Regions from separate parts of the Homo sapiens genome. Here regions 1, 2 and 4 are each linked to region 3. Evidence: fine-mapped expression QTL. A gene starts in region 3. Each other region holds a variant in brackets. All regions are shown on one strand. Distances are between the middles of the regions.

What was found.
Region 1: its variant is fine-mapped to the expression of POLE4 in whole blood (TOPMed, PIP 0.97).
Region 2: its variant is fine-mapped to the expression of POLE4 in blood mononuclear cells (TOPMed, PIP 0.96).
Region 4: its variant is fine-mapped to the expression of POLE4 in aorta (GTEx, PIP above 0.99).

Annotation. Positions count from the first base shown.
Region 1 is chr2:74,976,576-74,984,682 of GRCh38, forward strand. No RefSeq gene overlaps it. Among named protein-coding and RNA genes, the nearest start is that of POLE4, 22 kb to the left of the region's middle. RefSeq lists an enhancer at 7,377-7,878. The variant G/T (reference allele first, on the strand shown) is at 3,272.
Region 2 is chr2:74,917,759-74,925,865 of GRCh38, forward strand. The region is part of intron 1 of LINC01291 (long intergenic non-protein coding RNA 1291); the gene reads left to right. It overlaps LOC105374809 (a long non-coding RNA gene), which reads right to left. Exons shown (of 5, transcript NR_187884.1): 4 at 7,058-7,516; 5 at 468-2,528. Among named protein-coding and RNA genes, the nearest start is that of LINC01291, 13 kb to the left of the region's middle. The variant C/T (reference allele first, on the strand shown) is at 3,806.
Region 3 is chr2:74,953,597-74,961,703 of GRCh38, forward strand. POLE4 (DNA polymerase epsilon 4, accessory subunit) reads left to right here and starts at 5,047. Exons shown (of 4, transcript NM_019896.4): 1 at 5,047-5,296; 2 at 5,745-5,829; 3 at 6,509-6,550. The coding sequence starts at 5,084. It overlaps LOC105374809 (a long non-coding RNA gene), which reads right to left and starts at 5,283. Exons shown (of 5, transcript NR_187884.1): 1 at 5,136-5,283. RefSeq lists enhancers at 4,633-5,133, 5,134-5,634 and silencers at 4,926-5,185, 5,256-5,495.
Region 4 is chr2:74,889,220-74,897,326 of GRCh38, forward strand. HK2 (hexokinase 2) reads left to right here. Exons shown (of 18, transcript NM_000189.5): 17 at 26-259; 18 at 1,578-4,140. The coding sequence ends at 1,722. Among named protein-coding and RNA genes, the nearest start is that of LINC01291, 16 kb to the right of the region's middle. The variant C/A (reference allele first, on the strand shown) is at 4,179.

The DNA.
Region 1 (8,107 bases), 23 kb after region 3:
CTCCTCCTGCCTCAGTGTCTATCAGTCACGGGCTAATGGATCAGAAAGAGACCAGGCATTCCCAGTATATCTGACTGGGAGCACTAAAGCAGAATTTCCTGGTGGTAAAGATCATGCTTGGAGACGGGGAAAAGCAAGCTATTGAAATCTGATATTAACAGTGTGAAGGACTAATATTCAAAAAGAATCAGAGAACATTATGCTAAAAAGTAGAAAACTGTCCTATTTATTTATTTATTTATTTATTTTGAGATGGAGTCTTGCTCTGTCGCCCAGGCTGGAGTGCAGTGGGATGATCTCGGCTCACTGCAACCTCCGCCTCCTGGGTTCAAGTGATTCTCCTGCCTCAGCCTCCCAAGTACCTGGGATTACAGGCACGTGCCACCACACCCGGCTAATTTTTTATATTTTTGGTAGAGACAGGGTTTCACCATGTTGGCCAGGCTGGTCTCAAACTCCTGACCTCAAGTGATCCACCTGCCTTGGCCTCCCAAAGTGTTGGGATTACAGACATGAGCCACTGCGCTCGACCTAGGAAATTTAAAATGTGTTCCTGATTTCTTCATTGTATCTGAATCAGGGATCTGACATTCCTCATTCAAGGCTTCATATCTCTGGACATCTTAACACTTAAAGCATTTTTCTTTTTTTCCCCTAATTAGCTCAGAATGTTCTCTGTACCATCTTGTATTTTTTATACTGTTTAAAGTTTTGTGTTTCTTCTTCCTTCGTTTCCTGTAGGAAGCTAGTTTCCCTGATCAGATCTACAATATCTAGCTAACTTGGAATCTTCAAGAAAAATGGATGGTATGCTGTATGCATATCTGGATCAGGATGGTGAGGTAGATATGTCTCACAGTCTCTCTAATGCCTAATTTAATAAATGAGCAATCCCTGCCCCCCCCCCACCAAGTTCATACAAATTAGCAAAATATTTTGCCCCAGCAGTCAAGGAATGGGGCACGTTGCAGTGCCACAAACTTTAACAAGCAAATAAGGAATGACATGGAAGATTCTAGAATTGAGAGGAAGTGCATGACACAGAAAGGTTTCTAAACCCGTCTGCCAGAAGTCATAACTATAAGTCACCCAAATCTTGGAGAGTTTTTATACTCTCAGTCAGGAGGAAATTAAACCAAAGGGTTGGTAGCTTTTCCCTTTTCTGACTGTGGAGAAGTGGAAAGGGTTCCTGGGGAGAAATGGGTGAAGCAGATGGAGATGAACTCTTCAGTGGATGTGAGGGCTATAGGCTAAGCTAGAGGATGCATCTAGAGCTAAGGGGATGGAATGTAGCTCCAAGTAGGCGGAGTAAATCCTAGTACTGTGTGTTAAACCTCCAAGATGGCACACCTTCTAAGCTGAATCGTCCCTCTCCACTCACCATACCTTCAGGTCAGGTATATAGAAATACATAGAAGCGCCCTCAAACTGCAGCTCAGTTGAGAGCACAAATTGACCTCAGGTGTAGTGGAAAGTAAAGTGGCCAAGAAAATGGATGCCGGAGCCAGAATCCCTAGTTTCTTATCTGCTACTTAGGAGGCATTCGAGAAAGGAGACTCTGTGAGTCATATCCACTTCACCATTAAGAGATTAAGTTACGGCCGGGCGCGGTGGCTCACACCTGTAATCCCAGCACTTTGGGAGGCCGAGGCGGGCTGATCACGAGGTCGGGATATTGAGACCAGCCTGGCCAATATGGTGAAACCCCGTCTCTACTAAAAATACAAAAAATTAGCCGGGCGTGGTTGCGGGCGCCTGTAGTCCCAGCCACTCAGGAGGCTGAGGCAGGAGAATGGCGTGCACCCAGGAGGCGGAGCTTGCAGTGAGCCGAGATAGCGCCACTGCACTCCAGCCTGGGCGACAGAGCGAGACTCTGTGTCAAAAAAAAAAAAAAAAAAAAAAAAAAAAAAAAGATTAAGTTATTTAAACAAGTCACTTAATTTCTTTGTGCTGAAACTTTCTAATCTGTAAAATGGGAATAGTGATAATACCTCAGGATTCTTGTGAGGATTAAATGAGTTAATATATGGAAAGCTCTTAGAACAGCACCTGGCACATATTAAGTGCCATATAGTTGTGTCAGGTAATATTGTTATTATTATATCACAGCAAAATGGAAAGACTGCCCAAACATGAGCAGAGTGAAAAGAAATAGCACAACTATATAATAAGCAAGAGCAAAACCAAAAAGTGTCCAAAGGCAAGGAGCCCAGTCTAGAAGAAAGCATAGTCCAAGGTACAGAAGAAAATTCCTCCTGAGTGTTTGAATTACAGAATAGTAACATCATAAACTCAATGAAACGAGCCCAAAAGCTAACTAATACGTAAAGAAATGAAGGGGAGGTTGCAGACCTCACTTTTCATTGCCAGTCAATTTATATTCTCTAAAACGGAAACATGGTTTAAAAAAAAGCTTGAATTTCTTTTTTTTCTTTTTCTTTTTCTTTGTTTTTTTGAGACGGAGTCTCGCTCTGTCACCAGGCTGTAGTGCAGTGGCGCAATCTCAGCTCACTGCAACCTCTGCCTCCCGGGTTTAAGCGATTCTCCTGCCTCAGCCTCCCGAGTAGCTGGGATTACGGGCACACACCACTATGCCCAGCTAATTTTTGTATTTTTATTAGAGACGGCGTTTCACCATGTTGGCCAGAATGGTCTCAATCTCTTGAACTTGTGATCCACCCGCCTCGGCCTCCCGAAGTGCTGGGATTACAGGCATGAGCCACCATGCCTGACCTTAAAAATAGCTTGAATTTCTTAAATTTTTATAGTCTCTTAACCTTCAAGGAGTGTGTTCAGAAATCATTTTTCTTATGCCAAAGAAACATTCGAAGTCCAGCATAAAGTTCATTTTCACTTGGAGCTTTTCCTTCTGTTAAATTTTCTTCTAAAGGCAACTTTAGTATTTTGTAATTAAAATAGCAGGTGTTGTATTATTTTATGTAAGTATTTCTGTTTACCTGTCTGCTCATTCTACCCATCTTTCTCTCATGGAAGTATGTGTAAAGTGATTTTTACTTAATGATGGTTATTTCTAGGTGGTGCAATTTTTTTTAATCCTTTGTCTGTATTTTTTTCTGCATTGCTTAGTATATGATGCACATTGTTGTGTTGTGAGGAGGGACCAGAAGAACTAGGAGGAGATTGGAAAAACTTTGTGATACTAGGCTGGGACTAAACAGTAAATCTCTGAGCTGGCCCTGAGATTGCTTGTCCCAGTGTTGCCTATTGGTTTCCCAAGAGCGATAAAATCTCCCAATTTTCTGGAAGCCAG[G/T]TTACACTTTTTTTTCTCTGTGTTCTCTGGGACCTGGGAGGTGATAGCTCCTCTTGGACAATGATCTCTGTTCCAGTACAGGAGTTAGAGCCCCAAAGGCAACAAGGATCTCACTTGTAGAGTGCTACAATATGCCAGGCATTCTCATGATGCATTATTATTCCCACATCACAGAAGAGGAAGTAGGCTCAGAGATATTAAAAGAGTGAGCTTGAATGCTCACAAGTGCAACTTCCTCTTAAATGGTTCAGAATAAAAATTTCAGTGATAATATAGTATAGGTAATAAAGAGAGTGAGAAATTAAGTGGTGGAGCCTAGCCTGAACTGTAATTCCATGATTCCACCCCCCTCATTCTCTAGGAATGACCTGCATTCAGCCACAAATGTCTTCTAGGTTTTCTGCACAGACTGCATTGGGCCCAGATAGGTTGGAGAAAGTTGTCTTTTTGAGCCCCTAGCCTCATTGAAGAAGGCAGCATGCTGAGGCAGAAGGGGCATGGATTTGGAGTCAACAGACCTAAGTTAACTCTCACTCTGCTCTTTCCTAGCTGTTTAGCACTGGCAGGACACTCTGCTTTCTTGGTCCACTGTTTCTCTAAAACGAGGATGTAGACATGATAACGATAGAGGGTGTACTTGGAGCATCCATTGTTTTGGGCCCTGTGTTAAGCACTCGAGGTGCAAGATCTCATTTAAGTTTCCTGACAGCTCTGTGCAGAAGGTACTATTATCTCCATTGTACAAATGAGAAAACTGAGGCTTAGACCTAAGGTCACATAGGAATTAGGGTTAAAGCTGGGATTTGGATCCAGCCAATGTGATTCCAGGGCTTATTTTCAGCAAGCTACACTGCGATGGTCTCTAAGATCCCTGAAAGCTGTCAAAATGAGGTTTCCAGACACGAGTAGAACTGACTGTGTGGGTGGTGCTGTGAGGGCTTACCACAAGGCAATATTGGACCACCTCTTCAATCCTTCATTGGTGGCAGCCTGCTGGCCATACCTACTCCTTGATTTCTCTCCCCGGTTAGCAAATCACTTGAGGCCTTCAATTTAATTCCCTCTGAAGTCAGACTTCCTAAAAACAAAATCCACCCATTGTCCCAGATCTCCATTTCTCCATGGAGAGTTACAAACATACAGAACTGGATAGTGGCCAATAATTAATCATGCTAATGACATGTCCTCTTTAGAGAGTGTGTGCATGTAAGTGTAAATACCTTTGTGTGTCTTGTCCATCCTCACCTAAGCTTGTCCAAGGATGTGATGTACATGTTTTCATGTGTTAAAGACAACATTTGAAATGTTACTGCAATAAAACTAAACATCACCTATCCTATAAACTAGCAATTGCCTTAGGCACTTACTTAAGGAACATGAAAACATATATCCACTAAAAGAGTTATACATGGGCTGGGCACAGTGGCATGAACCTATAATCCCAGCACTTTGGGAGGCTGAGGCAGGAGGATCACTTGAGGCCAGGAGTTCGAGACCAGCCTGGGCAACATGGTGAAACCCCATTTCTACTAAAAATACAAAAATTAGCCAGGCATGGTGGCACTCACCTGTAATCCCAGCTACTTGGGAGAGAGCCTGTGAGGCTACAGGCAAGATGGAGTCAACCATGCCATATTTGTCTCACTGTTACAATCTTTGCAAGGGCGATTTCAAAATCAGGGTTAGGCTGTGATGATTTTAGAAATTTCCCTTGAGTTTTCTGAGAAATGACAATTACACTTTTCAACGGATTCTGGCCCAGAAGCCTCCCAGACTTTTTTCAAGCCACATACGGAGTTTAATACACAGAGTTCTCATGTATCATTCACTACAAGTTATCTGAACCTCAGAAATGTATTGTCCCTGCTTGAAAAATTTCTTGTAGTGCAAAGGAAATGTGTGAGCATCTGCTCAGAATACCATAATCAAGAGCCTTGTGCTCCGAATAATATGCTCTAGTATGCAAGCTGTGGTGGGCTCTCCCCAAGAATTTGGAACAAGAGGTAGGAAGATTGTCCCTTGAGAGTAGAACCTTAAAATAAAGCGATTCAGCCTCAGACTCAACTTGACCTGATCAAATATATCTAAAAGAAGGCATCAGTAGTAGGGGACACTGGTCAGTGATGAAAGTGAGGAAGGAGTCCCAGAGACAAATGTTGCTAGGGCCTGTTCTACACTACATGGGGTCACTAGAGCCTTAGTCAGTGCCTCTGTGTATAGTGCTATGGTCCCATTGGCAAGACAGACCTGTCAGCCTGTCCCATTCAGGTACCTTTAAACACTGCAATCATATATCCAACTTCCTTTGTTCTGAGCCCACCTTTTCCAAGCAACAGTTTGATGCTGACTTGGCTTCCCACGTAACTCTGTCTGTAGGGAGAGAAGGTGCTTGTTATGGGAAGTTGGACTATTTGCATTCACTGTGACATTGATTTTTCTTTGTGAATGAATGGGGCCATTTCTGGCTATGATTTTTCAATCCTTGTTGCTTCACTGTGGGGAGATGAGAGGATGTGGTGGCCATATTTACTTGGAATATTTCAGTCCTCGTGAGTGATTCCACTTGTAGATTGCTGACTCGCCAAGCCACGGACAAGCAAGGGATACGGGCAAGGAATATGTTCTTAGAAAATTCTATACTACCAGAAAACATATATGTTAAAAGAAAATTTCCCACAGGAAGTGATATAGGAAGGAATTGAGGCATTTTGGTCACTCATACTTGGGAGACTGCAGACTGCATTATGCCCATATTTATAAAATTCTATAAATATTTCGATGTTTCAGATGAGTTGGGGGAGGAAGAAAGAGAAAGGAAAAGCTGTAGAATCAGGAGGAGATGATCTGGCCTCATTGAGGGTGTGGGGCATCGTGGACCAGTTCCAAAATAATTGAAACACAAATGTCCAGTCTCAACACAAGACAGAGAGCACTGCCACTCACTGGCTGTTGTGCTGAATTACCTGGCAATGACAGGCACGGTTTTCTGTATTAGTGTAAAGATTAATTTGTTGTAACAAATATGCCTAGAACATACTGGCTTAAATAAAGTAGAAGTTTATTTCTCTTCCTTGTAACACTTCAACTGATCTAGACTAGCAGGGCAGCTCAGTTCCATGGGGTTATTCTGGGACCCAGGCTCTTTTCATCTTACTGCTTTGTCTTTCCTTACTATAGCACTGTCCAATAGAATTTTCTGTGATGATGGAAATGTTCTACATCCATGGTGTATAATATGACAGTCAGCAGCTACATCTGGCTATTGAGCAGTTGAAATGTGGCTAGTGTGACTGAACCAATGTGATTAGTTCAAAATAAAAATTGAACTAAAATTTTAATATTGATTTTAATTAATTTAAATGTAAATAGCTGCAGGTGGCTAGTGGTTACTGTACTTAAAAGAGCAACTCTAGATCAAAGGTGGGAGGTCTCCAAGTCTAGTTCTAGTTCATACGAAGAGGGAGGAGAGTGTTAGTAGGACAAGGTGCTTGTTTTTAAGTTGGCAATGACCCAGAAGTTGCACACATTATTTTAGTTCAAATCCCATTGACCACACTTAGTTAACTGGCCAATCCCTACTTCAAAAACAGCTAAGAAATACAGTATCTGGCCAGGAGGCCGTGTGCCCAGGTACAACTTTATTATTATGGTCAAGTGACAGATTTTAGTGGACATCCAGAAGCCTAAGCCACAGCATCTCATCTTTGCAACCCTTAACTGTATGACTGTGTAGAATGCTCATATGAGCATTTCTAAGCCTGCTTAATAATACCCATCACAATTTCATGAGGTTATTGTGGGGGTCCCATGAGATAACACTACTAAAACTCTCAGCACAGTGCTTGGCACATCATGTTCAGTCAACATTAGACATTGCTATCGTAGCTTTTCTTACCTATAATCTTGGCCTTCAGTAATGCATACTGAGCCTTCCAGACTTTCCTGTTCTGAGTGTGGGTTGCCTATGGTAACAAAAGCTCTAAATAAGTAATGAGGGCTATTTCAAAGACACATAAGGGAAACACCAGACATGTACATCAGACACTGAGCTTGGCTAATGAGAGTATGTTTCTGAGAAAAAGGTTCATTTTATGTGCTGACAATCCCAGGTTTCTCGGCCTGAGAAATACTCACTGAGATTATTAATGTTACCATGAAGGGGCTCTTTGGAGACAGCTGGAGAGCTGGACAGCCAAAGACAGACAACATGTCCCTTGCCCTCCCCACTCCCTAATAGAGTGCAGGATAGCAAAAGGAGAAAGACATGCTTTTAAAAAGATGTCTGTGCTGGTCAGCTTGTGATGTTTCTTGATGAGCCGATAATGAGCGCATCTCTACCTTATTAGAAAAGATAAATAGAGACTGACTAGGGCGCTGCAGGGCAGTGACAGCTGTAGAAATTATCTGCTCTCATCTCAGGGATGTCACACCAGTGTCACAAAACAGAGATCAACATTTAGCTTTTAAAATTACCTGAGTAAAGATAGTGAATTCACTAGAGACTGTCAATGCATTTTAAAGAAATGTGTCATTTCAGAATAAGCATCTGTGAAACTGTATTTCAAAACATTGTGTGACAGTATTTCTTATTTGTCTTACCTGCTAAAAAGAAACTTTGTGCCTTCTGTGTTTAGAAATAATAAAATACTAATCTGGTGAATGCTGGATGAAAATTTTAGGGATAATTTCTAGATTCCTCCTCTTTAAATTGTTACTATATGGCGCATGTTAAAAACGAAAGCTAAATTGGGTTTTTGTTTTCTCTTAATGTCCCTCATAATCATGAGTGACATGAAATACAGTGATTTCATGACATAGTTTGTAAAAGTGAGAAGG
Region 2 (8,107 bases), 36 kb before region 3:
GCAAATGGGAGCAAAAGGTTTGAAGGGGGAGGATTAGGAATTTGCTTTTGGACATGCTACGTTTGAACGCATTAGGCATCCACGTGCAGATATTGAGTCAGCAGTTGGGGATGTATGGGTCTGAAGTTCAGAGGAGAGTTCAGGCTGGAAAGAATATATTCGGAGTTGTAAACGTGAGGCCAGGCAGGATCACGAGGAAGTGAGTGTCAGTAGAGAAGAATGTGCATAGCCTTAGGCACTTGAGTGAATAGGCTCAACTGTGTGGAAGTCTGCTGACAGGTCATCTAAGATGAGGACTCTCAACTGACCGTTGGATTTGCAATGTGGACCTGAAGAGTAATTGTGGTGAAGTTGTGAGAATGAAACTGAAGTGGGTTCAAGAAAGAACGAGAGGAGAGAAAGTGGAGTTTGAGTATAAATAACTCTTTTGGAGAGGATTGGTGTAATTGAATGGCAGGGGTATGAGATTTGAGGTCAAGGAAATATTTTTATTATTTTTTACGATGAGAGAAATTGTAGTACACATGTATATTTATGGGAATGACTCAGTAGAAAGACCAAAAATTTCATATGTGAGAGAAGGACCAATTGATGAAGCGATGTTCTTGCGTGGGCGCGAGGATGGGATCGAGTGCACAGCGGAAGGTGGCACTTAGGAACACGCAGCACTCGTCCATGCCAGCAGGAGGCAAGGCAGAATGGTGAGTACAGGCACACGTGTACTGATGTGGTGCTGGGAGTGTGGGTAGAATAGGCGGTTGTTCTGGATGATGGATACGGTTTTTCTCAGCTCTTAAAAATGTATTATTTCAAAATCAAACTTTTCATCATAATCTTGTCTTTAGCTCTTTCCTATTCTTCATCTTGCAGATCTAGATAGTCATTAGGCTCTGTTGATTTCACCTACTGAGTGGGTCTTGTCTGTAATGCCCATCTGGCTCCTTCAGCTCAGTGCGATGGAAGGGCTCTGCTCTGTAGCGACTAGAATTTAAAGCTAGCTGGAATTTATCAGGCATTTGATGGCTACCTGTTTAGGGGCCCTACCAGGGAAGTATTCCAATAAAATTGGGATAATAATATGCTTACCCCATAGGCCCATTTAGAGAATTAAGATAAATATCAGGTGCTAAGCGCTCAGCATTTCCCTGGCACATAGGAGGTTGAGCTGTTGGTATCTTCATCCACCATCACTGCTGTACTTCATGGTGAGCTTTCTATAGAGCAGGTCTCTGCTTTAGAACCTCTGACTCTGCCAGCTACCTGGATCAAATTTGAACTTTTCACCTGTTAAACCAAGGCTTTCACGATCTGGCCCCAAACTCCCTTTTTTGCCCCATGTCCCAGCACTTCTCTTTCATGTTCCTTCTATTTCAGACACAGAACTAGCCCTTCTTCAACCTATATCCTTTCTTTTCAGTTCCACGATTTTACGGAAGATATCTTGTCACTAAGCCTGGCAAAATCCTGCCCATTCTTTAAGATTTAATATATATCACGTTTTCCTGCGGTACTTCCTGGACTTCCCTTCGGACGCCTCTGGTCCCCAGTCTGGCTCCTTCTTAGGCCTGTCCCGTAATTCTAAGCTTGTCTGGCTGTCCTTCCACTATGAGCTCTTTGGGAGCAGGATCTCTGTTTGGTTCCATTCTTTTTGGTGCCTTGAACAGTACCTGGCACCAATAAACACCTTAAGGAATGACCACATTCCTTATTCCCTCCTTTGTATCCACCTCTTTCCTAGCCCTTAGTGTTGCACATTGTTGATGGCCTGTCTTCCCCATCACGCTATTAATGCCCTGGGAAACAAGACATTATCTTTATTTCTCCCCACGTCGCCAGAGCCTAACACACAGTGGCTCCATCTCCGCTCACTGCAACTTCCGCCTCTCGGGTTCAAGCGATTCTTGTGCCTCAGCCTCATCATGAGTAGCTGGGATTACAGGTGTGCGCCACCGTGCCCGGCTAATTTTTGTATTTTTAGTAGAGATGGGGTTTCGCCATGTTGGCCAGGCTGGTCTCCAACTCCTGACCTCAAGTGATCCGCCCGTCTCGGTCTCCCAAAGTGCTGGGATTACAGGCTTGAACCATCGCTCCAGGCCTCGATAAATGTTTAATGAATAAAACGATGAAAGGACCCGTCGCCTCCTAAATGCAGATCTCGAGGGAGCCTCCAGGTGGCGCTCGCCGCTCGGAGAAGCAGGGAGTCGGTGCGCCGCAGCTCCGGCAGGCGTCTGGGAGGTGGTCGCCTCCTCACCTGCCCAGGCGGCCGTCCCCCGGGAGCGGGTGGCGGTGACCTCAGGACTGACGCACTGCCTCCTCCGGGCGGGTGCGCAGCCTGCGTCAGGGGCGCTGTTCTCCCTGTGCTCTTGGACCCCGCAGTTGTTTTAGGAACATTCACTGGAGAGCGAGAAGGGGGCCGCCTTCCGGTGCCCGGTGGGCAACACCTAAGCCGCGGTGTTTACTGGTGAGGGAGTCGGCTGTCTGCTGGCGGCTGTGACAGCTGCAACACGCCACACAAAGATGTTATTTACCTGTCATATTAATGATAGTGTTAGCAAGTGCGTGGCACGTCCAGTACTTTTTTTTTTTTTTGAGACGGAGTCTCGTTCTGTCGCCCAGGCTGGAGTGCAATGGCGCGATCTGGGTTGACAGCAACCCCCGCCTCCCGGGTTCAAGCGATTCTCCTGCCTCAGCCTCTCGAGTAGCTGGGATTACAGGAGCCCATGACGAAGGCCGGCTAATTTTTTGTATTTTTAGTAGAGACGGGGTTTCACCGTGTTGGCCAGGATGGTCTGGATCACCTGACCTAGTGATCCTCCCGCCCCCGCCTCCTAAAGTGCTGTCCAGCACTATTCTAACTGCTATGTACACATTTACTCAAAGGTACATAAGATAATACAAAATAAAAATTTCCATTTTATAATGAGGAAACATAGGGGCAGAGGTTGGATAACTTGGCCGAGATGGTCCATTTAGCAGTAGCAGAGGCATGGTTAGAACCCAGGCGGTCTATACCAGAGCTGGCAGATGCCCCTTTTATGCACCCCTGCCTCCCTCTCAATGTCCAGCAGGGCTACCATCCGTGTTCCAGCTGGCCCGCGCTCAGCCAGCCAGACACCATTTATTAAGCACTTACTATGTGCCAAACACCTTGCTTAGTGTTGGGGATGAGCAGGTAAAGGGGAGAAAGTGTCTCCCTTTCAGAAGCCTCCAGGCTATCAAGGGAGAAAAAAGTGTTGTGGGTGAAAAAGGTGTTGTGGGGGATGGTTGTGCCAAACGGTAATGATGGACAGAGTAACAATGGGCACCCATGGGAGGAGCCGTGGCAAAGGAGATGCTGGCCTTCCCAGACAGCCCACCTGGCCCTTTTCTTGTGTGCCGCTCTTGTTATGGGTTTTTCTGGGGGAGGCATGGGGACACTGGTGCTCTGGCCTCGGTTCTGAGAGCCTGTCCAGGCCCGAGTCCCTCTAGGGCTTGGGCACACCCCACTCCAGTCTTGTCCTTGAATCCCTGCACAGTGGCTGGGACCCTTGTCCTTAGTGCCAACTTCTCTGGTGCTGCCTGCCTGCCTAAATTTCTGAATATCAGGGACTGTGCTCCACTTGCTGCTTGGACACTGCTCCCATCCTCCCACCGGTTCCCATCCTCAGCCTGGTCCCATGATCAACAGCCACAGCTTGCCTGATCTTCCCCTAAACTCTGGTTTTTGTGGCCCCAGACTAGCCAGCTCCCTGTCCTTCTGGTGCAATCACACTTCTACCTCTGCTCCAACTAGTGGTGTCTATGTGTAAGACCCCCAGATCCCAGA[C/T]TCTTTCCTTTTCCTCTGATACATCAGTCCCCTGCTGACTCCACCCATCCTAGATGCCTTCTCGGTTGATCACTTGAACCACTTTCTTGCTGGCCCCTCAATTTTCTGTCTCCTTGTAAACACTTGCTCTAGAAACCCCCTCCTTTCTCCACTTCTTCACCTGGGGTGCTCAGGGATGCTGAGCTGGAATTCCCAGAGCTGGCAGGTTGGTGCTGGGCAGTTTTGGAAACATGATTTTCAGGCCCCAGTGTAAAAACATGTGGGGCCAGGCACAGTGACTCACATCTATAATCCCAGCACTTTGAGAGGCAACTCAGGAAGACCACTTGAGACCATGAGTTTGAGACCAGCCTGGGCAACATAGCCAGACCCTGTCTCTGCCAAAAATTAAAAAAAAATTAGCCAGACATGGTGGTGCGTGCCTGTAGCCCCAGCTACTAGGGAGGCTGGGGTGGGAGGATGGCTTGAGCCCAAAAGGTTGAGGTTGCAGTGAGCTATGATTGCATCACTGCACTCTCACCTGGGTGACAGAGTGAAACCCTGTCCGTAAACAACATACTTTTTATTGTCTGTAAAAAACAAACAAACAAATAAATAAAATAAACACATGGGGCCCTTGTTCAAAAATTTTAAGAATTTCAAGATGACAACAGTAGACAGCAGTTAAACCAAGTTCAGGGCCCTTCTACTCATGGAGCCTGTGTGACTGCATGGGTTATAGCCCCCTGAAGTGCTGGGCCAATGCCCCCACCTTCTCAGAGCTTCCAGGGCTATCTGATTACTCTGAAGTCTCAGACCTGTGGTCTCTCCTGTCTTCTCAAGTGGCCTGCCACCACGGTTGTCCTTAGCTATCCCATCCCATCCCATCCCATCCCATCCCATCCCATCCCATCCCAGTCTCAGACAACATTCCCTGCAGCCTCACTTGCATTCACCCAGGCTTTCTAGAGTGGAGGAGAAAGCCTGGAGTTCCCAACAGTGGGAAAGCTACCTGGACCAGGTGGTGTGGTTGACAATGACTGAGAATCTGTCTTCAGGGATCCCTGCAGAGGCTGGTGTCCTCAACTGTACAGGGATTGGATCTAGATGTCAAGGGAGAAGACGGAAGGTAGAGAAGGAACCAACAAGCAGGCTCCTTCCCATTCTGACTAACTGGGCACTTTCCACAACTTCCTGAATCTAATTCTCTAGGGGCCTTTTATTTTTCCTGTTTCATAATTGTAGAGATGAGGAAACAGGCTCAAAAAGGTTAAGCAGCTTGCGAGCCCACACAGCTAGTAACTGGTGGCAGCAGGCCTTAAGGCTAGGTTGGTGTGAGGGCAAAATCCTACCCTTTCCTCCTTGAATCTCGCTTTCCTAAGGGGCAGAGCTAGGCCTTGACAGTTATTCCCTAATCAAATCTAACTTCCTTTCCTGCCCCCTCTCCCCTGCCACCATCACAATGATTGCCTCATGAGGAAATTTAATCTCATCCTCAGAACCTGCCAAGTTGAGCACTTCTGCTCGCTGATGATAAAAAGAATACCCAACTCTCAGGAAGAAAAAGTCATTTGGCTGTTCTCTGACAGTCCCTCCTCATCTGAACCTCACCTTTCCAGAGTGGGAGAGAATTTTGTCCCTCTCTGCTCCCCACTTGCCCCTGGCCCCGGTTATCTCTGGGCATCTCTCTTTTTCTTCTCTTTTCCTTTTCTTTCCTTTTTTTTTTTTTTTTTTTTTTTTTGGAGACGGAGTCTTGCCCTGTTACCCAGGCTGGAGTGCAAAGGCATGATCTCTGCTTATTGCAACCTTTGCCTCCCGGGTTCAAACGATTCTCCTGCCTCAGCCTCCCAAGTAGCTGGGATTACAGGCACCTGCCAGTTAATTTTTGTATTTTTAGTAGAGATGGGGTTTCACCATGTTGGCCAGGCTGGTCTCAAACTCCTGACCTTGTGATCGGCCTGCCTCGGTCTCCCAAAGTATTGGGATTACAGGCATGAGCCACTGTGCCCAGCCATCTCTCACCCTTTTGTCCCCCATTTGAAACTTTGCCACCAGCCTGGTCCTGGCCACAAGCAGGGTCACATGTTTTCCTGTCTTACTTCATGCCCCTTTCTTTTTTTGTTGAGATGGAGTCTCGCTCTGTCATCCAGGCTGGAGTGCAGTGGTGTGATCTCGGCTCACTGCAACCTCCACCTCCCGGGTTCAAGTGATTCTCCTGCCTCAGCCTCCTGAGTAGCTGGGACTACAGGCACCCACCACCACACCCAGCTAATTTCCATATTTTTAGTAGAGACGAGGTTTCACCATGTTGCCCAAGCTGGTCTTGAACTACTGACCTCAAGCAATCTGCCCTCCTCAGCCTCCCAAAGTGCTGGGATTAGAGGCGTGAGCCACCATGCCCGATCACCCCTTGCTTTTTGATTGTGCTTCAGCCAGCGCCCCTCCCGAGGCAGGTAAAAGTGGTATTTTTTTTTAAATTTTATTATTATTATACTTTAAGTTTTATGGTAAAAGTGGTATTTAGGAGACTCTTGGAAATGAGATCACTGACCAGATACTTGATAATGTTAGGAATTTGTGTTATCTAGATGTGGTGAAGGCACTGAGGTTATATATATATTTAAAGGAATCAGTTTCTGAGGTATAGCTCAAAATATTAATTGACGAAACCAATCCCAAACCAAATATTTGGGATTTGCCTCAAAATAATATCAGAGGGGAGAAATAAGTAGGGTTTTTGGTTAAAACAAGATTGACTATAAATTAATTGATGGTTGCTGAACCTTGGTGCTGGGTACATGAGGGTTCATTGTGCTATTTAACCTACTTTTGCATTTGTCTGAATTTCTCCATGATAAAAAGTTTTTTTTAAATGTTAGGCATTAAAATGAAAGACAGTAAACTCAAGAGCTCTGTGTATGTAAGAGTGAGAATGGGGTGGCAGAACTGGGAAGGGGCCTAAAGTAGGTGAGTGCAACGAGGCAAAGTACAGCACATTTCTGCTTTCCTGGAATAAGTCTGTAAGCAGCCACAGCTCTCCCAACCCTGCCCCAGGCCCGCTGTCCTCAGCTATGACTAGCAGGAGTCCAGGGTCCACTGCTGGGAGCCCACCTCCTCCATCATGTCTTGCTGGAATCCCGGGGGCTTATGCAGGCCTGAATGGGGCTCCCTGAGACTTCTGTCTAAGGAAGCCATGCACTGGCCAGCTTCATGGCTGTGGCTGCTCTTTCCCTCTCTGACACGGGATGCTTTTGCTGGGTGATGGCCCCTTACCTTGGCTTCTGCTGTTTTCTTTTCCAGCAAAGGGTGCTTCTCTGGGTGGGGCTTCAGAAAGAGGCTGGCCCCATAGTGCCTCTCCCTTCTAGGATCCGCTCTGCCCCGGTAGTCTCTTTTATTCTCTCAGGGTGCAACCCTGGGCTGTGGTTTTAGGTGCCCTGCCCTGGTCTTGGTGGGGCTGGCCCCGCCCCATAGGACAAGAAGTTCATGGGCCTTGTCTGTGTGCCACCCAGGGCCAGTCCTCCTTTTGGTGCATGGTTCGTAACCCAGGGCCCAGAATTCCCTGCTCAAATGTCCCAGCCTCTTCCAGGGCTGTGTGAACCTCTTCCCATCTGTCCCGTCTGTGGTGAGGTCACTGAGGCCTCAGGGATAGCTAAGGGGTGGCTCTTATTAGCGGCCTTTACACAGAGTTTGGGCATGCGGGCTGAAGTGTTTGTTCAGTGCCTGCTGGTGGACCTGAGAGGGGAAGAGAAGGTGGGGTGCTGACCAACTGCCTTCATTTATACTTTTGCCAATATTAGAGGCAGATGTGGGTCTGGGGTCTATTTAGGAAAGGGAAAAATGTGATTCCTTTTTCCAACTGTGTCCCCCCTTTCCCTAACCTTCCTTTCTTGTAGGGTGGATTAACAGTTTTTTTTTGGCAGAAAAACACACCAACCAACAAATGAACAAAAATCAACACCCCAAGCTATGCATACAAAACAACAGGCCCAACCCACACACTGAGAAATCGGACACTCAGCAGGCCACTCTGCCAACATGCTTTGAAAGGATACTCTTAAGAGGTTTTGGAGGTAGGGTTAACCTCCGAAGGGGACAATAGGGACTGATGTTTGCCTCAGGCTGGTAGGGACAAAGGGCATTGCAGAGGAGAAGACAATGGAAGTGAGCCTTGTGGGCTTATTTGGTGGCTGGCAGCTTGAAGGTTTCTCCCTCTAGGGCAAAGGTTTCCAAGCTATTGTTCACTGAAGAGCCTCCTCTTCATACATAAGCTTACCTGGAGACCCAGTATGAGAAACAAATGTTAGTGGAGATATTCTGGCCAAA
Region 3 (8,107 bases):
TTAATGTGCCTAGGTTTATCTTTTAACAATACACACGTGTACATACAACACATATATGATTTTTTTTTAAAAAAATTCAGAAATGAAGTGATACTGGTTCCTCCACTAACTTATCTCCTGGATAGGACACTTACTCCAGTATGGTAGATGGCAAGCTGTCTTTAATCTTTAGCTTATTAGATAAAATACTTCACAAGTTAAAAGAAAACTTTAGACAAGTTAAATTTTACAGAGTTTAACTGAGCAAAAAATGATTCTCGAATCAGGCAGCCCCCAGAACCAGAATAGATTCAGTGTGATTTTAGGCCTGCCGCATGGTAGGATAACAAGGAAAATGATGTCCAGAAAATGGAAGTGAGGTACAGAAATAGCTGGAACGGTTACAGCTTGATGTTTGCCTTATTTGAACCTGGTTTGAACCTGGTTTGAGCAGCTGGCTGCCTGTAATTGGCTGAAACTTGGCTATTTCTTACAAGAGTAAGTGACCGTTTTCACATCAAGTTACCTTGCATTTCTCTACATATGAAGAAACCTTTAGGCCAAACTTAAACTATGTAAAGAGACAGCTTTAGGCCAAACTTCACTTAACACACATCATGTTTTTTTTGCATTAATTTTCATCACGTAGCCTTTTAAAGATATTTTTAGCCTTCATTCTATTTGGACTGGAATGCGAACCGTGTGTGCGTGTGTGGCTTTTTGAGCTTTTCAACCTTCGTCTTCCTGTTTCTTCTGCCTTTTTTCCACTGAAACTCAAAAACTGTGAAACGTGATTTCCCTTTCTAACACACCTTAGTGCTGTTCAATACTTATAGTCAGGAAGTCCTGTCTGGTCTCCATAAACTCTTGGTTAGTCATAGTCAAACCAGGGAGAGAAGGACTGCACCAAGTGGTGAGACATTCAAGTGATGAGGAAAAGAAAAGAAAAGAAAAAAAAAAGAACACGAAGGGGAACAAAAAAGGAGAAAAGGAGGAAAGGCAGGGAACATATGAATGAGACAAAATTGGGAAGAAAAGGGGGTTGAAATGAGAATCCTCTGAAAGCCAAGTTGACTCAGCCCTTTCAAGAACTCTTAACTCCTCCTGCCCGTTAAAGGTGTGTGAACCAGAGCAACTCCATCTTGAATAGGAGCTGGGCAAAATGAGGCTGAGACCTACTGGGCTGCATTCCAAGATGGTTAGGGCATTCTAAGTCAGCGGATGAGATAGGAGGTTGGCACGAAATACAGGTCATAAAGACCTTGCTGATAAAACAGTTTGCAGTAAAGAAGCCAGCTAAAACTTACCACCAAAACCAAGATGGCCAGGAGAGTGACCTCTGGTCGTCCTCACTGCTACACTCCCACAAGCACCATGACAGTTTACAAATGCCAGGGCAACATCAGGAAGTTATCCTATATGGTCTTAAAAGGGGAGACATGAATAATCCACCCCTTGTTTAGCAGATAATCAAGAAATAACCACAAAAATGGGCAACCAGCAGCCCTCAGGGCTGCCCAGCCAATGGAGCAACCATTCTTTTATTCCTTTACTTTCCTAATAAACTTGCTTTCACTTTACTTTATGGACTTGCCCTGAATTCTTTCTTGTGTGAGATTCAAGAACTCTCGCTTGGGGTCTGGATCAGAACCCCTTTCCTGTAACATTTTTCTGGTGACCACGAAAGGACTCTAGCAAGGAAACCCCTGACCCAAAGGCTAACTTTGGGTAAGTGGTGGGGTCCAGTAACACCCCCACCATTGTCAACTGTCTTATGTTAATTCAGAATTTAGGTCAATTTAGTACTTAGCTACTTTGCGATTGCTGGAGTATAGCTCTTGTGAGGTGTTCTTGTGCACTGTGACACAAGAATCTGGTCATGCTTTTATGAATTTTGTGTGGAGCTTTCCATGAGTGAGAGTGTCCATAAATGTAATCTGAAAAGAACCCAGGACTGAGGCCCTAATGGCTGCTCTGGTTCAATTTTCAGCAACTCATATCCTCTTCTGCAGATTTTAATTCTGGGCCAAGACTCTTATTCTGCTATAGTGGAGTGTCTCTGTGCTAATTCAGGGTTGGGGCTCATTACATGATACCCCAAAGTATGGTACTTTGGAATGCTGAGTACTTTGAACTGAAGAAAATTGGAAAGGCCTCAGAAGCAAGGTCTTTCTGAACTTCTCCTGTCCTGTTTTCCACTGTAAGCAGTAGAAGTTATTACAGTTACTGGCAGCAAATTGCAGCAACCTCGATTCTTGTCTCCTCAGAAGATGTCGACTGAGGGGCATAAGGCAAAAGAAGAGACTGAGGCAAGTTTTAAAGCAGGAGTGAAAATTTCTTAAAAAGCTTTAGAGCAAGAACGAAAGGAAGGAAAGTACACTGAGAAGAGGCCCAAGTGGGTGACTTGAAGGACAAGTGCAAGGTTTGACCTTTTGACTTGGGTTTTTATGTGTTGGCATACTTCTGGGGTCTTGCATCCCTTCTACCCTGATTCTTCCCTTGGGGTGGGTTGTCGAAATGCACAGTAGCCTGCTAGCGCTGGGGAGGGGAGCAAGTGCAGTGTATTTATTGAAGTTGTAAGCATGCTCACCTGAGGCGTTCTTCCCTTTTTCAGTAGAATGCCCCCAGAAGGTCATATATCAGTTAAATTCCACCATTTTGCCTCTTAGTGTGCATGCGTGAGCCCGCTCGCCCAACTCCTGAGATCTCATCAGGAAGCTCCTGATCATCAGTTTCAGGGTTTTTCTATCTATAGGGAAACTGCCTTTCCCTGGCGCTGGCTATGAGCAATTATTATTTTAGAGAGGCGGTGTGACCACTGTCTGACCATCACCTGATGATCTTCTGACATTCCTGGTGGAGCGTGGGGGCCCTATCCTGCCCTGTTCGTGTCTGACTAGCTACCCACTGTAACATCACCACTCTTCGCAGTGAGTCATGGAAACCAGAATTCCTCTTTCCCAACGCAGGTCATAGAAACTAGAATTCTCCTTCCTCCAAGCAAGTCGTAAAACCTAGAAAGGTTATTTTCTGCCTTCTCCCTTGAAGACCCTCATTCCAGAAGGGTCCTGCCCTAATACCAGAAGGAATGCTACACAGGGAGGCCAAGAAGAATATGAACAGACAGGCCTTGCTGGGTTTCCCCATTCAGTCTATTACCATTAGACTATTATCATTCCCTTTTTGTCCAATCCCATTTCTTTTTCTTTTTAAGACACAGGGTCTCTCTCTGTCGCCCAGGCTGGAGTGCAGTGGTGCAATCATTGCTCACTGTAACCTTGAACTCCTGGGCTCAAGCAACTCTCCCACCTCAGCCTCCCAAGTAGCTAGGACTATAGGATCACAATACCCAGCTAATTTGTGTGTGTGTGTGTGTGTGTGTGTGTGTGTGTGTGTGTGTGTGTAGAAATGGGGTCTCCATCTGTTGCCCAGGCTGGTCTCAAACTCCTGGGCTCAGGCGGTCCTCCTGCCTTGGCTTCCCAAAGTGTTGGGATTACAAGTGTGACCCACCGTACCAGGCCTCTAATCACATTTCTACACAGCGATCCCTTCTTCATATAACCTAAGCATAAAAATAGTTTCCTCTAGGTCTCATGGTCTGCATTTTTGGACTCTCATGTCATGTAAAACTTTGATTAGACTTGTTAGGCTTTTTGTGTGTGTTATAGGAGTGTCAGCTGTGACCCTTAAAATGGGTAAAGAAAGGTTTCACACCTTTCCACTCCTACACCAGTCAGAGTTTACTACATAATTTTGGAACTGAGTGATTTCAGATGTGTTTAATTCAGCTTCATCTTGGCTTCACCACATTCTGCCCTGTGTATGCGACTCAGTAACCACTCTGCACCTCAATTTTTTCAAATAAGGTTTGAAAAAGAAGGTTATAATATTTACCTCAATAGGGTATTGTGAAAATTACAGAAGTTATGATTTACATAAATCTAAAACACTTTGAATCATGCACATAGTAAATGTTTAAAGGTGTTCACTATTATTATGATTGACTTAGATTAAACCTATTTTAAATATTAACTGTTCCTCTACGCTATCAGACCTCCAAGTGTGGTGTGGGGATTCATGGGGGTGGGAATTTTCTGGAGACCCTTTTCAGGAGTCCATGAGGCCAAAATTATTTTCTTAATACTACTATGAGGTTGCCTTTTTCATTCACATTCTCTCAAGATGTAGTAGTTTTTTAAGAGCTACCTGAGAAGTGCTAACGTTAGCAACAGAAGCAGCTAGAGAATCCAGTTCTCACATGAAATCAGACATTAGAGACTTTTCTTACTAGATTTAAAAAAAATTACTTGTCATAAAAATGTTGTTTGTTAGCTGGTAACGCATTAGTAATTTTAAATCAATATTTTAAAACTTTAATTCTAATATAGTAAGTATTGATATAACTGACAGAAACAAAAGCTCCCTGGGCTCTTTAACAATCTTTAAGACCGTAAAGGGATCTTGAGGTCAAATTTGAGAACCAAAGCTGTGATGCAACCTCTTTTTGAACAAACGTGGATGCCTCACCACCACAATTTCATCTTTTCTAGCCTCCATGACTTTTTCTTGTTTCCTCTGGCTGGGCTGAATTTCTTCATTTCTGCCTGCCAAAAGCCCTACCCCTCCTTCAAGAGCATCTATAACTGGTTATCCTTGAATTTGGTCCAGATTTCGCTGCCTCCTTGGCACCCTCTTCCACGATGCTGGGCCCTCCAGGGCCGGGCCTCCCTCGGACACGTGCCCTCGTTAGCCTTGGAATATGCACACTCTGTTTTGACGGAGACTCTCTTGCGAGCCTGGTCTAGATTTCTCCCCTCACCAGCCAGGCACAGGCACCAATGGGAGGTGCCTGGGCTCCACAGGCCCGTCGGGGCCAGAGGGTCGCCGGTAGCGTCAACCAAGTGCACGACAGCCCACGGGTGGCTAGGCGCGTGGGAAGAGCCGGAGCCCGACCCCCGCCCACCCGGTTTCCTGGCAGCGCACTGCCGCGTAGGGGCGGAGCCGCGCGCCTACACAGGGTGTGGCCTCCAGCCCGCGCGGGAAAGGGCCTGCGCCGCATGCGCGCGCACAGTCGGCGGCCGCGCGCAGCACGCTCAAGGCCGGGATGGCGGCGGCGGCGGCGGCAGGAAGCGGGACGCCCCGAGAGGAGGAGGGACCTGCTGGGGAGGCAGCGGCCTCGCAGCCCCAGGCCCCAACGAGTGTGCCTGGGGCTCGTCTCTCGAGGTTGCCTCTGGCGCGAGTGAAGGCCTTGGTGAAGGCAGATCCCGACGTGACGCTAGCGGGACAGGAAGCCATCTTCATTCTGGCACGAGCCGCGGTGCGCCTGCAGCGCGAGGGCATGCGGGAGTGGGGGAGGTGGAGTGTGGGGCGGGGCCTCGGGGCCTCCCGCGGGCGGGGCTTAGGGCGGCGTGGCCCGGGTTTTGAGATGTGGGCGTGGACCCGGAAGGCGGAGGAAAGGGGCCGGGGACCTGTGCGAGTTTTGTTAACACTCCTCCCTCTTGTTGAGGACCTGGATAGTGAGTGACTTTAATTTGTATCTCCAGGGCCTCGTACAGAACTTGTAGGAGTCTTTAGTGAATGAGGGAGAATACTGGGAAGAGGGTAGCGGAATGGATCTTCATGAAGTCCAGGACAATCTTAGCTTCCAGAACATTTTCTTGCCCCGAGCCTTTCTTCTCCCTTTCTGCCCCCACCCACAAACCGGAGCCCTCACCTCCTCAGTGTGTTAGAACCCATTACTAAAACTTTGCTTTTTTACTTCACAGGAACTGTTTGTGGAGACCATTGCAAAAGATGCCTACTGTTGCGCTCAGCAGGGAAAAAGGAAAACCCTTCAGAGGAGAGACTTGGGTAGAGTGGCACTGCAGTGTCTGGGGACAGACAAGGGAGGGCTGGGCTGGTTTCCCCTTGTGCAGGTTGAGAAGACGTCACTCTGATCTGAGAGGTGCCACAGCGTCTCTCCCCAGGATGGTTTCTGTTGGCCACAGTGCCAGGAAGCCCTACCTGTAGAGGCTGTCTGCTTGGGGTGGCGGGGCAGTGTGTGAAGGTGTCTGGGGTTGCCGTAGCGGACTGGATCCCTTCATACCTTCTGCCAAATTGCACCAGAAAAAGATATTTCTTTTTCACCTAGCAACTGGGGATTTGATTTCTGACTCTTGTCTGGCTGGGAACCCTCACCTGGGTAAGATTTCGTATACCGTATTCTCATGCGCCCTGCGTCTATTGCCACGTTCTTCTCTGACAACTTTAAGAGCAAAGCGAATAAATAATTTAGGGGTAATTTAGGAGGCCCCCAACCCCCGCGTTGAATGGTATTTGCCTATGCTTTTCTTAACTCTTCTAGGGAGACAGCTAATATATATAAGAGTTGCTGGTAGAGTAGATATGGATCTCAAGGCAGCAAGGGACGCATCTTATAAATGCCCTCATTTGCCCAAAGCCTCATGCCCTTCACTGCAGATTGTGCTGTTTTCTGACTGAGGTCAGCATGGCTGAAGTTAGTCAGGTGTCTCTTTTCCTTGTGTTTCAGATAATGCAATAGAAGCTGTGGATGAATTTGCTTTTCTGGAAGGTGAGTTCCCTCTCAGTGGGCAATCATTTCCGCCTGTCTTTTGCATGTTGATGTGAAATTCAAAATCTCATAAAACGGATGCCTGCTTCTTGTTTGTGTAGGGATAATTCTCCGCACTTGCTATTAGGATAGAAAAAAGTAACTTGCTAAACCTAGTGAGGTTCAGTTTTCTCCCTTGGGGAATTAAAATTTCTACCTGAAAATTGCTAACCATAAAGAAATAGGAGGGAATATAAAGATCCCAGTGGAGTTAGATGAATTCGAAAGTTCGATTCCTACTTTGATCGCCATCCCTAAATGTCAGGCTTGCCCCCCCTCATCATGTTACAGATCAGAAACAATTGTTAACATTTAAAGGGTCACCGCTTGTTCTTTTTTCTTCAACAATCTGTGTGAAGTGATTATTTTGCTGCAATAAGACTTGTACTTGTCTGTATTTTTAGGAGTCATGGATTAACTTGTGTACTAACTAAATTTTGTCATTAAAAAAGAAAATATTTGAAATACCTAATTTTAGCTACCTAGCCTCAGAGCGATTTCTGCTACTTAATTCTTCAGTCTGATCAGCTTACTCTTCACTACACGTATGTAGTCATGTGCTGCGTAATAACTTTTTGGTCAGCCATGGACTGCTCACATGAGGGTGGTCCCATCAGATTATAATGGAGCTGAAAAATTCCTTTTGCCCAGTGAGGTAGTGGTCATAACATCCTAATGAAATACATTACCTTTTCTATGTTTAGATTTGTTTAAATACACTTATCCTCATGTTACAGTTGCCTACAGTATTCAGTACAGTAACATGCTGTTCAGGTTTGTAACCTGACAACAATAGGTATACCCTGTAGACTAAGTGTGTAGTAGGCTATACCATCTAGCTTTGTGTAAGTACCCTCTATGGTGTTCACACAGTGGTGAAATCGCCTGAAGATGTGATGCATTTCTCAGGATGTATCCTTGTTGTTGAGCGACACATGTATTTTGATTGAATAGCTTAGCAAAAGCCATGTATCCTTATTCTCCCAGGGTGTTCTCATTACCTCCTTCAAGCCTTATTACCTTTAGAAATATCTTGATTTATTCCACTCTTTTTTACTCCTTTGTTCTGCATCTCCCTGTCAACCTAGGCCCCTGGTCCTTTTGATAGATATTTTTTAAATGTCTTATTAGATAGATAGACTACCATGGCCAACTCTATGTCTAGACTATTGAGCATTCTTTTAATTTGCAGATTTTTCTTCAGCCTCTCTTTCCACCTACTCATTTTTCTTAAAATTAACTTTTGTTAGTCCTACCTAAGGCAGGCACTCCTTGTGACAGACTTTCTGTAAGTTCTGCAGTCAAAAATGTTTGGAGCCTACTTTACCTCTTCATTTTTAATTACCAGCTTTTCAAAGACATGAGTGATATGATCAGATTTGTATTTTAAGTGCACAACATTGCTGCCCTGGGGAAAATAAACTGGAGGGTACTAGGAATAGAAGTGGGGTGGTCTTATGTAGTTTTCCACTCTAGCCTCTATCACAGCATAGTGCTTAGCTTGGATTTTTAATAAAT
Region 4 (8,107 bases), 64 kb before region 3:
ACTTGCTGTCTCCCTCCCACCCCAGTGACTGCCTGGCCCTGCTGCAAGTCCGAGCCATCCTGCAACACTTAGGGCTTGAGAGCACCTGTGACGACAGCATCATTGTTAAGGAGGTGTGCACTGTGGTGGCCCGGCGGGCAGCCCAGCTCTGTGGCGCAGGCATGGCCGCTGTGGTGGACAGGATACGAGAAAACCGTGGGCTGGACGCTCTCAAAGTGACAGTGGGTGTGGATGGGACCCTCTACAAGCTACATCCTCAGTGAGTGCCTGATCCCAGCCCCCCCTGCCTACCTTCTTTCTGTCTTTGTTCTTTCCCTTTTCTTTCTCTCTTTCCTTTGTTACTTTATAGTGAATTATCAGCCATTCCAAATAGTGTATATAATACATGGATTATAGTTTAAAGATTCATAATCAGAAGTAGGCCTGTGTTTCACCCCCCACCGTGGGAAGCCCCCTCCGAGCCCCTCCACAACTGTGTCATCATTCTCCCATGCCAGGGGTAAGTGTTGTGCTGAATCAGTCCCTTGCTTTTCTTTTCCACCCCCATATATGTAGGTATGCATCCATATTGTTTAGTTTTACTTATTTTTGAACTTGCCACAAATAGAATCACATGGTATCTCTTCTGTGGCTGGCTTTTCTCACACAGTGTTTGTTTTGAGACGCATCCGCATTGAAGTATACAGTTGGTAGTTCATTAATTTTCAGAGCTGTATAGCGTACCTTTGAGTATGTTGTTTTTTCTATCGTTGAGGTGATATTTAGGTTACTTCTAGATTTTGACCATTACAAACAGTGCTACTGTGAACATTCTGGCAAATGTAATGCTAGAACTCTGGAGCAAGATTTTTTTTCAACATTCTAGAGCAGGGGTTGACAGGCAACAGCCACAGGCTGTTATTGTACATATAGTTTCATGAGGATTGGGAGGGGGCAGAAGCCCAGCCACCAACCCTGGGACATGGCATCCTCAGCTTTGTAGATGGGGAGGGTGTCCTGACCCTGCTGTATTGGGGCAGATCACAACTCTCTCTTTCTCTGGTCCATATAGGAAGGATCTGTGATCACTGTGATATCCTAGCAGTGACTCTGTAAGTCTGCTTCTTTTGCCTCCGATGACATTTTGGAGCACATGTGGCTCTGATATGAGGCTATGCGCCAGGAAAATAGAAAATCACATTCATGAGTCCTGGTCCTGGTCTCCCCCTCCAGAGTTGTGCTCCTCTGTTAGGCACACTTGTGGCTTCCATGGTTGTTGAACTTCTCTTTTACTGACTATTAGTTTTAAGAACACAGTTTGCCAGGATCTCAGACGTTTGTCCCAGAATTGAATCCTAGCTCTCCTAATGGCTGATATGATGTGGAAATTGGGCATAGTACTAGTGTCTCCAAGCCACGGTTTTCTGGTACTTAATAATATATAGTAAATGTTTAATACATTATAGCTGTCATCCTTCTCCTCTTCTTAATTATTTCTGTGTTTCCAGCATCGCTTCTTAGCTTTCATTTCTAAGTGCAAATACAAACCAATCATGACTAAGATGGTTTTTCCTGTGTCTTCCTCCCACCTTTTCCAGCTTTGCCAAAGTCATGCATGAGACAGTGAAGGACCTGGCTCCGAAATGTGATGTGTCTTTCCTGCAGTCAGAGGATGGCAGCGGGAAGGGGGCGGCGCTCATCACTGCTGTGGCCTGCCGCATCCGTGAGGCTGGACAGCGATAGAACCCCTGAAATCGGAAGGGACTTCCTCTTTCTCTCCTTCTTCCCTGTTTTAAATTATAAGATGTCATCCCCTTGTGTCAGAGACAGACCCCTTGGCTTTTGCTTGGCAGAGAGGACCCCACTGGACTGGGTTTTGTCTCTGCATCTCATTGTAGAGCTTGGTGGCTGAGCTTGGCCCTATTAAGATAAATAGAGTTCCAAATAAGGATTTGTTCACATGCATCATAACCATTCCCATTGGTTCTCCTAAAACATGAAAATTATCTCCCTTAGTAATCCCCCTTGCCAAATTCCATGTCCCTGTATAATTCTACAGGATGGGGACACTAATGAAGATACGGTTGCTTCACCTTGGAGCCTGAACATGACATTTCTAAGTGGGGTGCATCCCCCAGCACTGATGTTGTTACTGATTCTCCTGTCAGAGATCTGGGAGGTCTCCACTGAGGATGTGAGCCTGATTATCCTATAGGCAGACGTGGGGAGGGTGGAGGGGTGACAGTGGAGGAAAATCCATGGATATCCACGCAGCAGCCCCTCTTTAACCTCATCTACAAGCATTTGCCCTGTGGATTCCAGCATTTGCCATTCCTGGAATCAAGGAATCCTGAGTCTGGGCAATGAAACCAAAGCCAGGAGTTGACGCATCCTGCAGTTGGGCCAGCTGTCGCATCTCAGCGGGGCGCACATGTTATCCACAAGCAATGGACCTTTGGGGAAGGGGGAGTTTTTAGTTTGTTTTACAAATTTTTCCTGCAAAAGTGGAATCACTGTATTTTCATTTTAATTTATATTTGAAATTTTATTTAGTTCTTGAGTAGATCTGCTTCTTCATCTTGACATGTAATGAATGGTCAGTTGTACGTAATGTATTTATATGTTAATTTGTTATGTATATAGATGTGCAAGTCTTGTCAGAATTGGCCTCAGTGTAGTTAAAGGGCAGAAGGGGAAGATACTGACTAGTCATAGAAATACCTCATTCGCCTGTGGGAAGAGAAGGGAAGCCTCTTCAGGGTGAGTGAATGGCAAAGCGGTTGCTTCTGGCTCCTCCTTCCCCTGTGGTCTTGGAAGTGTGTGGAAGGCAGGGACAGAGATGGAGGCCGAGCCAATAGACTGAAGAGACCACAGCAATTGGCTCCTCCATCTAGAGATTTTCTTGGCAGTATTCCATGGGATGTTAAGCAAAGGAAACCAAAGGAATCGTTTCAAATGGACTCATGGCTTAGAAATCTTTATTCTTAGGGCAGTCAGTAGTATTCTAAAGCTTTCTGACAAGATAAAGGAAGTCACCAAAATTTCTTTTTTTAAATTGTATCTAATCCTCAACAACAAACCAAAACAGAACAATTAAACAGCCAAATAAAACCTCAGGGACAACATTTTTGGTGTATTTGAGCCCTCCCAGCAAGTTTCACCTTGGGTTTGTATTTTAAATGTTTTACAAGAATTGTCCATGTGCTTCCCTAGGCTGAGCTGGCATTGGTCTGCTGACCTGTTTTTGTGTTTTTCTTTTTTTTATACACAACATTTATTTCAAACTATTGGGAGGGATGAGAGTGGCTTAAAAACTTCCATCCCTACTTTTCAAGAGTGCAGTTGATTCTGAATCTGAAAGCCCGCCTCTGTCCTAAAATACAAACAAGCACAGACATTAAACCTGGATACTATATGATAAAGAGGGATGTAACTATTGAATTGGATACAAGGATCAGAATGGAAAGAAACTCACGATGAAATTGAACCTGGTTTTTGTATATTTATCAAACTTGTGCTGAGAATAGTGTCTGATTATACGACTTTTAAGCAAAGTTGGGTGTAATTAGGTGAAAACAGCCCAGGTCCTCCCGGGAGCACAGAGGGGCTAGGGGCTGGTCCTTCTCGTTTGCTCTAGTCTTGCTTTGCTGTCTGGTGTAGCTCCTCTGCTGCTCCCATCTGCACTAATTGACCCAAAACGTGGGTATTTCCTGCTACACAAAAGCCAAAAGGTTTCATGTAGATTTTAGTTCACTAAAGGGTGCCCACAAAATAGAGATTAATTTTAACTTAAATTTTAAGCTTGAAGATTAGGTACTATCTGTGAAGTTACACTTTTTTTTTTTTTTTTAAAGGTAGAGATGTGTGTGTGTGTAGGTATTAAAGATGTGTTGTTGGTTTCCAAAAAGGAACACTGGAAAATAAATTTTGAATGTTTATGTTCTCAGAATCAGGTTGACAGTCCCTTGCTGACATGGCTTTGCTTTGTGTAAATACAGTGGATCTCAATCTTCGGGGTGTGATGAATAGCGAATCATCTCAAATCCTTGAGCACTCAGTCTAGTGAAGATGTTGTCATTATGTACAATACATAACTAGTTTAATTAACTATGTGATGTTAACTATTATTAATAAATTTTAACATTTTCCAAAATAATCAAATGTGATTCATGAGTGTTTTTAAGAGAGTAGTCATCTTC[C/A]GGTCGTATCAGTACTTCCTGGCCAGCCCGATGAGTAATTTATGGGTGTCTTGATTTTGAGTGTGTGTGTTTGAGAGGCATGTGGCTTTTCCAGAAACTCAGTCCCAGTGGAATTAGAAGGCAGCTTTTCCTGGACTGCCTTGGACCCCTTAGATTTCAAGCCACTGAAGAGCTATGGCTAGTCCTGCGGTCTACTGTTTAAATAGCTTGGCTGAAATTAGCACCACCCTGAGGGCCTCTGGCTGGTCTTGGTTGGCAAATGTGATTCATATTCAGGATATATAGCTCTCGTGAACATCCAAAAAGCACTTGCCTCTGTCCTCTCCCTACCAAGCTTTTCCTTCTCCCCAGTAAGCAGAACACAGGTCTGGGGAGTAAATTCATCAAAAGTCCCTAGTGATACCCATTAACATTCACATGGCCCTGTTTGACAATAACCGAGGGAAGAAGATGACCATGGCTAAGAGGATAATGGAGATAGCCAATGGGTGAGGGAAAGTTTAAAATTAGACCCTATTTTTTCTGATATCAAACTGGTGAGATTATGGGAGCATTCTCCTACACTGTTGGTGGAAGTATGATTGGTATAGCCCTTATGTGGGGAAAACAGGCAATATGCCTCACAGCAGGTTTTGTGTAATTTTCTAGAAATTTGTGCTAAGGAAATACATATAGTTGAGGACTAAGATTTAACTTTAAGGATATTGACTATCATATGGCTTATAATAGCTAAAGAGAGAAACCGTCTCTATATAATAGACCCACTCACCCTTTATCAGGGTACAGTCAGGAAAACAATCCATTCCAGTCATTGTAAACATTTTAATACTGTGACTTGGTTGCATAGGGTGACGGCAATGCTGAGAAGCCAAGCAGTACAGAGAAGCAACCCAGGGATTAGCAACATCAAGAAAAGTAGCTTCAATCCCACTGGCTGGATCCGAGTCCCAAAGCTGGGGTAAGGGGGCAAGTACTGGGACTGTGGAATGGGGTGGGAGATGAAGAAATTCTCTGCCTTCCTCCCGCCCACTCATTTTCTGCAGTGTTTCCATTGGTTGAACCTAGCAGGAAGTGTGTTGGCACAGGGAGCCTGGGAAATGGAGCCTCCTGTGATATGGCGCAATTAGGAAAGTAACCGGCATGCGACTTATAAAACCACTATGTGGTTTTATAGAATATTATTGAGCAGGGTTATTACTAAATATTCTCCATTTAGTAATATAGAAAACATTGCCAGTATGCTGCTTCATGCCAAAGAATATTTCAGAACAGTGTATTGTGATCCTGTTTTTGTTAAAAAAAATACTTGTTAAAAATTACGATATATGACATAAGAGTTGTAATGGGTTTCCCTGAGTGCCTCCTCTGCCTTGCTGAATTCTGGTAGAGGCCTCAGCCCCCTTTCTCAGCAGCTCTCCCTCAAATGACTCACCCCTCTGGGAGTCTGCATGCTGCAGTTCAGCTTGGTGGTGTTCACCAGCCTTAGCCAGGCTGCTACTCAGTGCAGTTTTGGTGCCACCTACCCTCCCTAGGCCACTGCTGCCCCCACTTCACAGCCTCAGGGAAGATCTGCACTCCCATTTCCCACTGGGGGCTCAAAGTGGACATAGACACATTCTCCACAGACCATAATACTGGCAAAACATTCAGAAGATACTTTGTGAGATGGTTTGGCTCTCTCTCCCTACCCATATCTCATGTCACATATCTCATAATTCACAGTGTTGGAGGAGGGGTCTGGTGAGGGGGGAGGTGATTGAATCATGGGGACGGACTTCCCCCTTGCTGTTCTCATGATACAGTTCTTAGGAGATCTGGTTGTTTGAAACTATATAGCACCTCCCCCTTCTCTCTCTTCCTCTTGTTGGCCATGTGAAGATGTGCATGCTTCCACTTACCTTCTGCCATGATTGTAAGTTTCCTGAGGCCTCCCCAGCCATGCTTCCTGTGCATCTTGCAGAACGATTAGTCAATTAAACCTCTTTTCTTATAAATTACCCAATCTCAGGCAGTTCTTTGTAGCAATGGAAGGATGGATAAACACACTTTTTTTAGTGTATAATTTAACGCAGGTATTTGCACTAGAATGCCCTCCAAGCCCTGGATTCCCCATGCTCATGGCTTCGCTTGGGCTGCCTCCCTGCCCAACTCCCACCTGCTCTGTGGGATTCCTCACCACAGGAGAAAGCCATGTCCTTTAATGGGACTCAGAAAACGATATTCCAAAATAATGGTCCTTTGACATGCTGAATAAAGAGGCAACCTCAAGGTCTTTATATACTCCTGCCCCACCCTCAACCCCCTGTTTCTCCCAAAGCAAAGGATAAGGCTTTTCTCTGATATTCCCTGATCTGTGTAAAGACTGAACCCCCTCCTCACAAGGAGAACACAACTGCCTTCTGTCCTTTCCCTGAAATCTCTTAAGGACCGGACCCACCTAGAAGAACACAATTGTCCTCTATCCTCTCTCTGAAATTTTATTATCTGTTGCAGAAAGGAAGACTGAGGAATGCAACCACAGCTGGATGGATTTTTTCACAAGATAATGTTTGTGGATTCCAGCATTTCATTCAAATTCCAAAGAGAATCATTTACAAGTTAATTTCTGTCTACCTGGCACATTCATTCTCTCTAATAAACATTTCCGCCCCTTGAAAAAGTCATCACATTTCCCCTATCTCTCCTTCCCCTATGAAGAAGGGTTTATAAGCATCTGGACTTCACTACATTATTGGGTAATCATTCTGTGATTCTTCCATGTTATGTATGTTAAAATAAATTTGTACACAAAATAAAACTGCAATAGGAGAACAATCCTATTAATCTGCCTTTTGTCAGTTCATCTTCAGAAAACCTTCAGAGGGTGGAGGGGGAAGGTTTCTCTCTTTGCTTCTGCAGATTTGAGGCTGTGAGCAGGATAAACCACATCTAGTCTGCTCTTCTGGAAACCACAGTCAAGGGAATCTAGGACCTGACAAACTGGCAAAAAGGGTAAGAATTTCTCACCAGTCAGATTCCCAGGTGTCTGTCTATGGAATCCAATAGAGCAGATGGTAAAAATCACTGTCTCTGTTTCCTTTCCAAATTCAGGTTAGTGGGGGAGAAAAGCATTTGTACAGACTTGCCTTAGGTTTAGTGACCATGGTATATTTTTATCATGGGGGCTGCATTTTTTGCACCCATTTAAAAAATGCCCCATGTTATTGTAAATCTAGAAAGTTACCTTTGGGACTTTCCATAAAGAAGGCTTATTGGTTTGAGTCACTTATGGGATAAATAAATCAGCCGTATTTAAACAACTGTTTTGCCAGTTTGTCAAGTCCTGGGTTCCCATGACTGTCTTCTTAGTACCCATGAAAAGACACAAAAGAAATATAGCCTCAGAGACTTATTTGACAAGAATAAAAGAAAAACTTTGTTTTAAACCTAATATTAGGTTTAAAATATTAGGTTTAAAACAAAGTTAATATCCTTCAAATGCTCACACTGTCTGCTTTGGATTTTATAAGCAACGCACTCTAGCCTGTGGTCTAGTGGTTAGAATTCAGTGTTTTCAGTGCTCTAGTCCAGGTTCAATTCCTGGTCAGGGAACCAGTTCTTTGGAAATAAAAGTCCTTTGACTCAGTAGGGGGAAAAAAAAGCATTTATGAGAGTTTAAATTACTTATCTTGAATTTACATTTCTATGACTCTTGACTTTTGGAGGTATCCAGTCATTTGTAATCCTTTCTTCCCTCATGAACAGCATCAGGTTTCCTGCTTCTATTTTCCATCCGTTGGGTCACATGTGTTGTTGGGTCTTTGATGCAGGTGACCAGCTGAGAGGTTGGGACCCTAGAGAATATGTCCAGATGGAGGTGTGAGTTGCACCCCATTTGCAACTGGTGAAACTTTCCTTTTTTTAAGTTGTCGTTGGGAGTAGTCTGGATC